Linked DNA regions of Homo sapiens: regions 2 and 3 are each linked to region 1. The links come from fine-mapping of genetic effects on gene expression. A gene starts in region 1. Each other region holds a variant in brackets. All regions are shown on one strand. Distances are between the middles of the regions. Region 1 holds the start of MYLK4 (myosin light chain kinase family member 4). Region 2 overlaps MYLK4 (myosin light chain kinase family member 4). Region 3 overlaps WRNIP1 (WRN helicase interacting protein 1).

What was found. PIP is the estimated chance that this variant, and not a neighbour inherited with it, causes the effect. A credible set is the group of variants that fine-mapping cannot tell apart.
Region 2: its variant is the best candidate, but not a certain one, in a credible set for the expression of MYLK4 in prefrontal cortex (BrainSeq, PIP 0.56).
Region 3: its variant is the best candidate, but not a certain one, in a credible set for the expression of MYLK4 in skin (TwinsUK, PIP 0.79).

What each region holds. Positions count from the first base shown.
Region 1 is chr6:2,749,089-2,753,328 of GRCh38, forward strand. MYLK4 (myosin light chain kinase family member 4) reads right to left here and starts at 1,834. Exons shown (of 13, transcript NM_001012418.5): 1 at 1,648-1,834; 2 at 48-318. The coding sequence starts at 206. RefSeq lists a silencer at 3,407-3,701.
Region 2 is chr6:2,665,777-2,670,016 of GRCh38, forward strand. MYLK4 (myosin light chain kinase family member 4) reads right to left here. Exons shown (of 13, transcript NM_001012418.5): 13 at 1-2,123. Among named protein-coding and RNA genes, the nearest start is that of LINC01600, 33 kb to the left of the region's middle. The variant G/C (reference allele first, on the strand shown) is at 2,061.
Region 3 is chr6:2,780,760-2,784,999 of GRCh38, forward strand. It overlaps WRNIP1 (WRN helicase interacting protein 1), which reads left to right. Exons shown (of 7, transcript NM_020135.3): 5 at 2,647-2,802; 6 at 3,565-3,644. Among named protein-coding and RNA genes, the nearest start is that of WRNIP1, 17 kb to the left of the region's middle. The variant G/A (reference allele first, on the strand shown) is at 2,078.

The DNA of each region.
Region 1 (4,240 bases):
AAGATAGAATGAATACTTTTTAGGAGACTAAATTAGAACATGATTACCTCATTATGTCCAGATCTTGAATCCTGGTCCCCAGAATTTTTTTCCAGAAAACACTTCACTTTCTCCACCTCTTCCCTGCACTGAAAAAAGGCCATTTTCTCCAGCTGGTTGCTGTTATAACACGTGTTGAATTCTTCCAGCCTCTTCACTTTTAACATCTTAGTAGTGAGTCCGATTAAGCTACTTTCTGGAGTGTGGTTTTCGTCTCCCTCTGTCTCCGATTTATAAATCAGGACACAATTATGACTCTTCAGTGCTTCTTTCTCTTGACTGCAAAGAAAGGAAACACAAAAAGTTCTCATCACGTATTCATGCATTTGACTTCTTGAGAAAATGACCAGTGAGAATTTGGAAGTCCCTTCTGTTTAAACTGGAGAGAGGATCCAAAATCAGGAAAAGAAATACTAACATTCATATTGAGTTTCCAACATTGGAACTTTAAAAGGAAAAAAAATTTTTTCACTTTAAAACTACAAAAGCAAACAGTAAGAAGCAATGTCAAGATTCACTGGTGATGAAATATGCTCCTTATTGCACAAAACAAGCCGTAGATCAAGTGGCCAGCTTGGATGTAAATTATAAAGTATCTTTGGGTTTAATTGGAACCGCAGGTTTTGCAGCCCCGTGGGAAGGGCTTATCACAGAAGGGGTCTCTCTGCTTCCCCTGGCCTCCCTCTGCAGAGGGATCGCTCCCGAATGAGTCCTTTTCCAGAACTCTTCTCTACCTATGCCTTAAAATGTGTGGTGTTTATTTGTGAAAAGAAATTTATTTCCTTACAGTCTTCTCACGTGGACAGCACTCCCAGATACCTTTCCTTGCATCTGCATTAACAGCTATGTACCGAGAAGTTCAGAGTCTTTTCACTCTCCTTAAAATACTTTCCTCGCAAATGAAGTAATGCAGCATACATAATTCGCTTTGATACTAGAGACATATACGCATGTCTATATGTACACATCACTTGATTGCATAGAGAGGCAGGGAGAGGGAGAGACATTTGAATTTGTGCTAGTTCCGCATGGCTGACAACTGAGGCCCCCTGGTGGAGATTTTCCGAAAAGCGCCTCTTCGAGCATTTTCTCCGCTTAAAAACCGTATTGTGATTCTCATCAGAAAACTTAATATTTTGTTTTGTCAGTTCCTATAGTAAAATGATACTCTTGAGTTCCAAAGTGTTTAAAATTCACTGCTCTAACAAATTATACTTATCCACATAAAGAGCTTACATTCAAACAAATAAAAATGCAAATATTAATACTATCAACCAGAGCTCTACAGATATATTACAGATCATTCTTAGCATTCTTTCAAATTGCCCTGAAAAAATTATTAAAATAAGGAAACAAATGCATGGCTATTTCTAAGGCAAACTACGACTAAAATACTATGGTTAATTGCAGATGAAACTCAAGTTGGATCAGGAAGCCACACAAAATTAATGTATTAAAACAAAAGCTTAGGATTAAGATACAATAATTTTGCAAAGAAATATTAAACATTAAGCTCTACCTGAAGTTTGGTACAATTTGTTATTGAAGGTAACTTAGAAAAAAGGGGAGGAGATTTGAGAGGTTATAACAATAAACAAAGATAATTACCATTGATAGGATCACATCGAAGAGCTTGAGCCACTCCAAGTCTAGAGCATACATTCCAGAAGATAAAGAGAAATTTTGCAGAATTCAAACTGACTATGAAAGTCTCTGGTAAAAGTTTTGACTCTCAGTCGTATAAATCTTCTGAAAAGACAAGTGTCCACTACGAGAGGAAGTATCTTCTCTCTCAAATGCCACTTTCAGCCCCTGTTTAAATTAATATGGCTCTTGATCTCACGTTGCTCAGCTGTTGCCTTCTTAGTCAGATGGGGAAGAATATTAATTTTAGACACCAGGCTTTTCAAGGCCAATGGCTCCATTTCAGAGGTCAGGTAAGGAGAGGATGAACCGGGAACACTGGATGAAATATCACCTTCACCTTTCCCTCGTATCATTGTGTCAATACTCTCGGATTTACAAAGCTAGATTTGTCCTCGGCAATCATCTGCCTGGACCTTCTGCCCCTTTCAGACTCAGGATTATTTAAGTGCTCATTAAATTTCCCCCAGTAGGGAAAATGCCAGGTGTGGCAACCCCACAGCCACCTCTGTTTGCCCATCTTACGCTTTGAGCATATCCAACTGCAATATAGAAGATCTTCTGAAAGCAGTTAGCAAGTTTGTTTTATTTTTCTCAGTTCTTAAAGATGTTTGCAAAGTCTCCAACCATTTCTAGCTCTAGGGAAAGGTCAAAGGCACAGGCATCCAGGAAACAGGAATAAATTTTTCATAAATTCTCCTTAAGCAACACTAGGACTTCATCCGTAGTTTTCTGCACAGACCAAGAAAGGGGAATTTCAACCCACCTGCCCGACTCTCACAGTAGTGCATCCCTAGATTCACTGAAGTGGCATAAAACTTTGATTGCCCAGAGGCTGGACTTTGCAGTCTTGAAAACCCTGCAATTTTTCAGGGCCTGGCCAATTGTCACCTCTTATTTGGAGCCTGTGTTAGCCCCTCTATGCCCCATTCTAACACCAGCCTCTGCTGCTCTTCTGCTTCTTTTAAAAAAAAAACCTTATTTTTAATTCAGATCGATGCATTCCATGTGAAATAAAAATACATATTTTTCCATTTTATGTAGTATTAATGAATTACAGCAAAATCTTTTTTAAAACACAAAACGCTTGTTATTTTTCAGATTGGAGAGCTTTGTTCTTCAGCAAAAGTAATGAAGTGGAACTATAAATTTGTGGAGATAAATTATCTGACAAAAGTATTATACAAAGACTAAGCTGGTTTGAGGTTACCAATTTTGTTAGTATAATTAAATTGTGTAGAAGTACTGATAAGGCAACAAATGCCCTGCCAGAGGCAAGATGTGTGTGGGCTGCTGCTGATCCAACCACATCCTCCACCCGGACCACCACCACGCAAAAGCAGACTTCCTATCTCGTTGGCTCCAGCAAACCAACCACAGGCTTGAGTGAGCCAGAGGCCAGGAGAATCTGCTCCTTAGCTTATTTTTTTGTAATAAACTTTTCCTTTTAGAGTAGTTTTACATCTACAGAAAAGGTGCAAAGGTAGTTCAGAGTTCCCCTTGCCCTGCACCCCGAATCCTCTGTTTTTAACATCTTACGTTGGTATGGTATACTTGTCACAATTAATGAACCATGGTGAACGTTATTATTAACTAAACTCAATACTTTATTGTTGCTGGGTTTTTTTTTTCCCCAAATGCCCCTTTTCTGTTCCAGAATCCCATGCAGGATTCCACAGTACATTTAGAATCAGTAGGATTTATGATAGATTGGGTATGGGGTATGAAAGAAAGATGGTAGACACCTTTGCATATTTTCTTCTGAGCACTTGAAAGACAGAGTGAACATTAACTGAGATGGAGACGGCTGTGGGAAGGGCAACTCTGGAGGGAAAGGTCAGGCATGAAGTCTTTGGCAAGTCCATTAAACGTTCAAGTTGAATAGGCTGTGGAGATAGAAACTGGAGTTCCGGGGAGGGGTGTAGGCTGGAGATAAGAATTTGGAAGGCATCCACATATAGACATTTCCATGCACAATATACATTCAATACATATTTGATTAATGACTAGATAGAATGATCTTTAATTGTGTCTACTTGCCCTAAAAAGCAAGTCAATTAAAATAATCCATGCTAAAAGTGACTGATTGTCTGGTTCTGCTGCATCACACTGTTCCCAGCTTCCGATGGCATACAGGACAAGCACACTGCTGGCACAACCCTTGACCACAAAAAAACAGGTTATACATGCATACTCATTCTGGTCTATCAGCCTAGCCTCAGGATCCTAAGTCCATACCCATAAAATGTTCTGCATGCTTAAAGATGCTCTTATACCCGGAAAAATTCATTAGTGAGGAATATGAGCAGGCCCAGGAACACTTTTCCAGTATTTCCATATTTTGGAGTTATACTTCTCTAAAAAATACCAACATCAGGAAAACAGCACCCTACAGAGCCATGGAAAAGAATCCCTTGATTTTTTTCAAGGGACATTTCCATTAGCTGAGTAAGAGACTGTGTTGTCAAAGGAGCCACATGAAGAAACATCGTCGACAGCTCTTGTCTACGGGTTGGCATTGAAACCCGGCTGGATTACACTAAGAGTTTTTGTTTCT
Region 2 (4,240 bases), 83 kb before region 1:
TAGCATTTGAGTGAATGCCAGCTCTCTGCGGTCTAACTAAGTATTAATGCATGCACTGGCTTGTATTTTTCCAGGCTCAATGAATATCATCAGCTAAAGATAGCATAGTAATATAACACTCCAGTCACAGGGTTTTGTGTGTGTGTGTGTGTGTGGTGTGTGTGTTTTAAGCAAACTAAATTAAACACTTAAGCATAGTCACATCACAGGAACATAAGAAACCAACCTCGGATAAATGCAAGGCCAAAGGAGAAAAAGAAACGCATCATAATGTAAGAGCAAAGGCTGGAAAGGAGTCAGTTTTATAACTAACACGACCACAAAATTCGCATGTGGCCTTCACCAAATCACGTATTTCCTTCTATCTCTACTTCCTCCTTACCTTAAAGATGAGAATAAGGATGTTGCACACATTCACGGCATGCTGTAAGGATTCCTTAAGTGGATCTGAGAGATAATGGGGGAAAGCTGATGCAAAGTGAAACTGCCATCCCTCATGAGGCCACCAAGTAATTCTTATGCCTTTCATTGCTATTGCGACAACAGTAATTGAGACCATTCTGGCCAACATGGAGAAACCCCATCTCTACTAAAAATGCAAAAATCAGCCGTGCGTGGTGGCGTGCGCCTGTAATCCCAGCTACTCGGGAGGCTGCAGGAGAATCGCTTGAACCTGGGAGGCGGAGGTTGCAGTGAGCCGAGATGGGGCCACTGCACTCCAGCCTCGTGACAGAGCGAGACTCCGTCTAAAAAAAAAAAACAAAGAATAAAGGCATTAACACAGCTGATTCAACACAACAGTTATTTGGAAATGGAAAATGTGAGAAAGCTCATGAATCTGGTTGGTGAGCTTGGAGTTCAGCGGGTAACAGGAATTTTGTGGGGCTTTTCCTTGCCTCTCCTTCATGTGGAAATGACACACTCATTTCGCTCTTTAAAGCCCAGTGCCTTTCTGGGCCCCATAAGCTGTCTACAGTAGGGCCATTTCCTTTCTTACATATCTGCCATGAAATGGCACACAGGCTAGGCATAGGAACCTTCCAACTGGAACGTTCCAACATTCTCACGTCCAGCAGGTGAGCTTGCAGAGTTGCCCCCACCTCTGGTGTCCGATTGAGATTTCTTCACCACCATTGAGTCCCATGAGACAGCACAGGCGAGAGACTGTACTTGGTCTTTGCCACTGTTTGTATGTGTTTACCCAGAAGCTTGAATGTTATTTCCCAAGTCACTTCAATGTTGAAAGCTCAGTGCTATCTTGCTCCAGGAGGTGCAGATCCGTCTCTTTTAGTTGACAAATGGGGCTTGAGGAAACCTGTTGTGACTGTTGACATTATTTCAAAGGTCAGAATTTCAAAGTCCAACCATAAACAGATACTTTTTGCATCACCTCTCAAAACCAATGTGTTTTGTGGGGATGAACTGTCAGTCAGAAGGGTGCAGGGAGTATAGATGTGAAAAACAGAATCAGCTACATGGAAGAAAACGCACGCTGGGGACAATTCAGAATAAATGAAAGACACAGTGGCTGATGCCTCTTGTTGGAGAATTCAAAGACGGCTTCTGTTCCAGCAAACAAATTATTTATCCATTGTAGTCACGTGACCACAGACCAAATCAAAATGACAGAGTCTGTGAAACTAAGTCTCCAAGGGTGCATGGGAGTCAGAATTCTTTCTGGCCATCTAATTGCCCCTTCCAAAGGCATAGTCTAATGGCTGGAAGTAGCTTTCTCCCTCTAAATGCATCCTCCAGTTTTAAAATCTCCAATCAATCTTAAGTGTCACAGCTGTAGTCATTTGAGAAATGGCAGACATAATGCACCCCCTGCCCCAGTGACTAAGATCAAAAAATTTTTTTAAAAAAGTAAAAAATCTCAAGATGGCAGGGAAACATCTTCCCAACATCACCACCACCGGGTGCAGGGATGTGTTTGCGCCCTGAGACCAGACCGCAGCGCTGGGTGTTCCTCTGAGCGCAGCAGAGGCACTCCAGTTCAAGTTCACATTCAGGGTCGAGGGCTCCCCCTGCTAAGACTACCAGGTCATCACAGGGGTCAA[G/C]GCATCAGAACTGCTGATTTTTCAAAAAATTTTCTCGAAGCAGCAGCAACCACAGCAGTTTTCCTGCAAAGCAAACAAAATATGAATCTTGTTAATTCAGCAGGGTTTTTAAAATTATAATTAGTTGGTTGTGCCCCTTAGGAAAACCACAGATGATTTTTTTTAATAACATATGTGTGTATATGAGCGGGGGAAAAAAAAAAGAAACCTCTTGATGGATTCCACCACCAACCAGAGTTGGGCTTTTTATTTTTCAGTTTGTGCAAGACATTTTTTTTTTCTTTCCAACTTTTATTTTAGGTTCAAGGGGTACATGTGCAGGTTTGTTACATGGGGACATGTGTGCAAGATATTTTAGTACTATTTGCAATATTGAAGGACAAGGCCTCTTTGTTTCGTCTGAAGTACAGCCACTCCGTCCATCTGGTCAGCTTGATCCCAGCATCAAAGTGAGAATGTGGCCTCAGGTGTGGGGAGGTTTCCATGTGCTTTATGACCACGTCTGACCTGGGGCCCGCACACGGCTACCTGCCATCATTCCTGTGGCTCTGAGGAGTACCCTAAATTTATATCCCATAAGTTGGCAAAAGATATAACAGAGGTAACCAGAAACAAAATGCCACCAGGTTGATTTTGGGAATGTTTCCTCTAACAAATTGTAGGAGACATATATGCCTCAGTTGACATTGTGAATTATGCCTTATTTATCGGCCTGGAACTCTTTCTTTTACAACAGGAATAATCTTCAGCCACCAGATTTTTAAAATCAATATTATCTCAAATTTGGTTTCCATCATAATACATCCTGCCATAAACCCATCTCATCCTGGCAGGGAATATTATCGTGAAGAATAATCTTTTTTTTCCTAACTTCTCAAATGAGGCTGCTCCCAGAGTTAAAATCTTATGTTAAGTTTTATTTATTTATTTATTTTTTTAAGTAAGAAGGTAGGCAGGGAATGGTGGCTTATTCCTGTAATCTCAGTGCTTTGGGAGGCAGAGGCAGGAGGATCACTTGAGCTCAGGAGTTCAAGGCCAGCCTGGGCAACATAGTGAGACCCCCATCTCTACAAATTTAAAAATTAGCCAGGCGTGGTGGTGAAAGCCTTTTCTCCCAGCTACTCAGGAGGCTGAGGTAGGAGGATCACTTGAGTCCAGGAGTTTGAGGCTGCAGTGAGCTATGCTGATGACACTGCACTCCAGCCTGGGTAACACAGCAAGACCCTGTCTCTAATTAAAAAAAAAACAAAAACAAAACAGAAAGCAAACTAGGAAGCATCCAGATTGTGTGTATCTGAAATGATTCTTCCTTGGCCTGTAGTGTGACTCAGGTGAATTTCTGAGGCCAAATGGGGCTGAAGAGTGCAGGAAAGGAAGGCAGCCAGCTCCATGGCTGTCAGCAGCCCTCCTCAAGCAGTTCCAGCAGAGGCTGTGTCCAGCTGCCCCAGCGTGGCCAGCCCAAATGCTGCTGTCTGCGTCCTCTGCACAGCCATCGCTTCGTAGGCTGCTGTGGTCTTCCATCACATTGGGTTCGAGGCACCCATGTCTGTGTGGAAGGACTCTACCCCCTCCCATCACCATTTCCTCCTCATTCCTCCCCCACCAGACCCTGGCAGCAGGCCCGCCTTGGAATGCAACCCTGGCACCCAGTGAATTCATTCCCACCAGGCCTCCAGAGTGGCTCCGGTCCTTATGGTGGGAAGGTGGTTTGTGGCAAACCCTCGGGGTTTGTGGTCGCTAGGGACAAAACTGCTTCTGGGGGTGAGGGTGAAGGCGAGGGAGAGAAGGAGTGGACACAGCCTGGTTGTCTGTGGATCCAGGAACTGACGGTGCAGGACTGGGGCACCTCGCTGAGTGCCATAACCTAGGCCTGGGGGCACGAGGGTCCTTTCTTGCTCCAGGTTGTCCTCACAAGAAACAACTCTCTCCTACCTTATTGAGACTTTCATGTCCTTGCTGTTTTTAACAAAGAAGAATGGTCTTTGTAAATGGAATGCACAAGCCTTCCTGTTCACTTTTTGTGGATTTCTAAATAAGTGACAGGGCACATGTAAGCGTCCCTTCCTCCGAAGGCCAAGTGTTTTCCTAGCACTGATGTGTGGCCTTTACTATGAGGTACTGATTCATTTCTACCCCATCTTATTCCACAAAAAATTCAAGGCAGCTTACAATAATATGTA
Region 3 (4,240 bases), 32 kb after region 1:
AGTGCAGCAGCAGCGGTCTCTCTCTCTCTTCTTGTAGGTGTCCCAAAGGATTTGCCTTGTTTTGATTGGAACGACTAGGACTGTTCTTTGACATTTTATCAGACTGTCACTTGAGATCCATATAACATGGCATTCACTAACACTCAGCCATTGAGTATTTTATAGGTGTATTCATTTTTTAAATTCTCAAAATTGCTTTATGGAGATAGCTATTAATATTACCCCCATTTTAAGATAACAAAGCAAGTGGTGAAACTGACCCGTAAATCCAGGTCTTACTGGTTCCCAAGACTGTCCTTCCCCCCGTCCGCATTTGCCTCCACACCAGCCTTGCCATGCTGTTACTGATCTCACCCATTACATCATGCTCCTGAGAGGGGTCACCCGTCCATGCACATACAGAGCGGATCTTGGAGGGGTTCAGTCCTAGGAATCCCACTTCCTGAGCTCCACGTTGCAGAGCTCTGCACAGTGGGGATCACCTTGTCTATAGCTTGGAGCTGGGGGGTGGTGGAGGCTGCCTAGTGCCGCTGCCTAGTGCCAGCGCCTTAAGAACCCCACATCCTATACATCTTCCCAGTATGAGTGTGTTTACACACCCCACCCCAGTGCAACATGTCTGCCCCACAGTGGATCCGCAGACACATAAATATCATTCAGATCTTGGAGAAAGCTGCTTTTACAGGCTTTGCTCTATAAATAGGGATAGTGGAAGCATTGCCCTGGAAACCTGTTAGCTTATACTCTTGGGCCTTTTTATAACTCCAGTGAGACAAAGACCCACCCCCAGAGTTGTGATTATTTTTGTATATGCCACCTAGTTCATAGTTACCCACTAGTAGGATCCAGTGATGTTTCTGCATCAGAGTGAAGGAATTTCTAAATGAGAGCAAACTCTCTGCCATGCATTGACATCGGGGTTCTATAGAAGTCGTCAGATTTCAGGTTATAAAGCAGTGTGTAATAAAAGCAAACATGGAAGGTAGCATAGAATAATACTAGTATCTATCACTGATGCAAAAGAATCTTTTTACAGTGCCTGCTCTGTGCCAGGCGTGTGTTATTTAATACAGCCCTGTGAGGTAAGTGGTCTCGTTTTTCCCATTTTACAGATGAGAAACCTGAGGCACAGTGAGGATCAGGAACTTGCCCATGGCCCATGAGCTTGGGGGTCCAGCCCAGGCTGTTTGGTCCCAGAGCCTGTGCTCTTGTCCATTATACTGGTGGTATTGCCCCTGGCATTGACAAAGTGGGAAAAGATGACTAACCTGTGTAGGGGGAGTTTAAATTTGACATAAAGTGGTGTGGGTAGTTTCTTCCAGCCCCCATGCCCGTGAGTTTAGCCAGGCCTGTTACCTGCTACCCTCTTCCCCGCCTTCCTCCACCCTGCAGAGGAGCAGAGCGTAGCCTGAGTGCCTGGGCCAGCAGGGTGAGGGAGTGGGCCAGAACCATGCAGATGTCATCCAGGACACCCTCTCGGCCAGTGTCCATAGCACTCTGACTTCACCAGGGGAGCCCTGCACAGGAGACACTCAGTTTGTTCTCAGAAATCCAGTAGCTGGGCTGACCCATCCATCTGCCCTGGCTCTCAGAAACCAGAATCACTCAGGCTGAGCCGTGGGTCCTGCAGGTCTTTCCCCTGTGGGAGGCCAGCATCTTCGCTTGCTCTCTTCTCCACCTGAAGACCAACTGTCATCTTACCAGCGAGCTCAGCTGCCAGGGTTTGTGGCTGGCGCCAGTCGTATTGTGGACATGGGCTTATGCTGAGCACAGACCAGGTGCTCCTCTGGGAGGAGTGAGACTCACGGGAACACCATCCTCCGCTTTCTCGTGAGGAGGGTGCCCCCTCCTTGAACTTACCTAAGGGACGATGGCCAGAGAATAGTGAAATGTATGCAGGTGCCACTGCTTAGTTCCTGAGAACTGTTTAGCTGTCATTTTTTTGCCCTTAAATATGCCTTTTTTTAAAGCACATTTCACTGATTTCATGTGAATCTAGGGTAAAAATGGAGTAGTAAGACCAGGCGGTGAGAGAGTGGGCTTCCGTCCACTTCAGGGCGGAAGCTGGTTAGTCCAC[G/A]TGTCGGTCCTTCTGGGACCCTGCCACACAGGTGTCCCCACACCAAGGCTGGCAGAAGGAGGTTTAAATGACCACAGGCTTCGGATATCAGAAAGGCAGCTGGAAATGACACTGAGGAACAGATGGGCTATAACAGCTGCCCTTGCCACTTGGCTCTACATCCTCCTGGCTCCGAGCAGGCCCACCGTTGCTTTTCCTCCAGTAGATGGTGGGCCACGGGATAGAGCCAGAACAGAAGACTCGTCCCCCTCCACTCTTGTCTCTGGCAAATCCACCAGCTGGGAGGACCACCTTTCCTCCCTCCTGCCTCTGTGCGTGTGCGTGCACTCCATGTCGACAGCCACAGGTTTCTGCTGCAGCAGCCTCTTCCCCTGAATAGGACTGGGATTAAGCCCCAGCAGCTGGTGCACCCCACTCAGAGCACGGTTAAGGCAGCTGCCCAAACCTCTCCTCGGCTTTCTCAGGGCCTTTATTCGTTCAGGCTTTCTGGAAGTCAGCTGGCGGAGGTGAAGATGGCTTGGGCGCCCCTCCTGTGAGCTCTGTGTGAGTGGTGCTCTTTGTGATGTCAGGTGAGGAGCATTACAACTGCATCTCCGCCCTGCACAAGTCCATGCGGGGCTCAGACCAGAACGCCTCCCTCTACTGGCTGGCTCGCATGCTCGAGGGAGGAGAGGACCCACTCTACGTGGCACGGAGGCTTGTCAGGTTTGCCAGCGAGGACATAGGTGAGTGTGATGGGAGGGTCCCGGAGTCCTATGTCCATGAGGGTGGGGAAATGGCTAACAGTTACATCGTGGCTTTTTTTTTTTTTTTTTTTGCAGGGCGGGGTGGGCGGGGGTAGCAGGAAGAATGTCTCAGGGCTATGTGAGACTGGCAGGAGAAGATAAGACTTTATGCCTGAGCTCAGTCGTTTATTTCCTGGTGTATGTGCTTTTGAATGTTTATGTTCATAAAGTCACCATTTTCTGTTTCCTCTTCGGGAATGTTTTTACTAACATGAGTGGCTATTCAGAGTATTGCAATAGATGAGCTGCTTTTAAATTTGCTTTAAGTCAGGTGTTCAAGGTTTTCTTTGGACAGCTCCCAAGGTAGAAATGGAAGACTCTAGACACTATATGAAGAAAAAGATCAGGAAAGCTCTCCTCTTCTTTGGTCTTAGGGGATGTTTTGTTTTTAGTGTTTCCATCCTGGTGAATGTCTCCATAGCCTTCACTTCTTATGTTTGTTATACAGAGACTCATGTTTTTCTAGATGCAGAGTTTTTATCCACAAGGAAACAGTTCTTAACACCACACAGTAACCACTCTCAATATTTCTTGCATAAGTTCATGGGATCAGAGACTAGAGCTAAGTCAGGCTGTTTTGCTACATGGGATTGTTTTGGTCACCAAGTGTACAAGCAGTGGTGGTCTGTGGTCGCCTGCACATAGGCCAGGAGGACAGTGTGTGTCATGACTGAAACTCTCCTTTGTCTCTGTGTGTGGCAGGTCTGGCAGACCCGTCTGCGTTAACACAAGCGGTTGCTGCCTACCAAGGCTGTCATTTTATAGGCATGCCTGAATGTGAGGTAAAGTAATCAGCTCATTTCTTGCAAATCACTTCTTTTCTCTCTCGTGCTCTGTCCCTTTGTAGATTTGAATAAATGTCCCTCCTTCACCATTGGTGTATTGGACCCACTGAGTATGCTGCTTGGCTTTGGAATTCCAATTGTAGACTCTTAGACTCCTAGAGAGGGAAACCTTCTGTGTCAACGAGGTCATGTTTCAAACTGTTCTCGGGATTCCGGGGTTCAGAGCACATGCTCCATATGTTCCAGGGAGCAGAAAGGTTAAAGGAGCTGAACAGCAAAGCCTCTGCAAGTTCGCCCCCAGAGCAGCTTCATATTCATCTCTTTTATATATTGGGGGCTTAAGAAAAATTTAATGTAGTAAAAAGTCCTTCAGTTAAAAAAAAAAATGAAAACCACTCACCTGGTTTGCCTCTCGTTTCACCTCATGAGAATTTCTTCTGTCTGTCGTAGGTGGTTATCCAGACTGTAGGCGCAAAAGGGGGATAATAAAAGCATGTGGGGATCTTCTCAGAATTACCTAGAGCTGTGTATCAGAAGGGGCTCTGCAGAACAGAAGCTTGGCATCTTGCTAGTAAAATGTGTCCTCTGTGTCA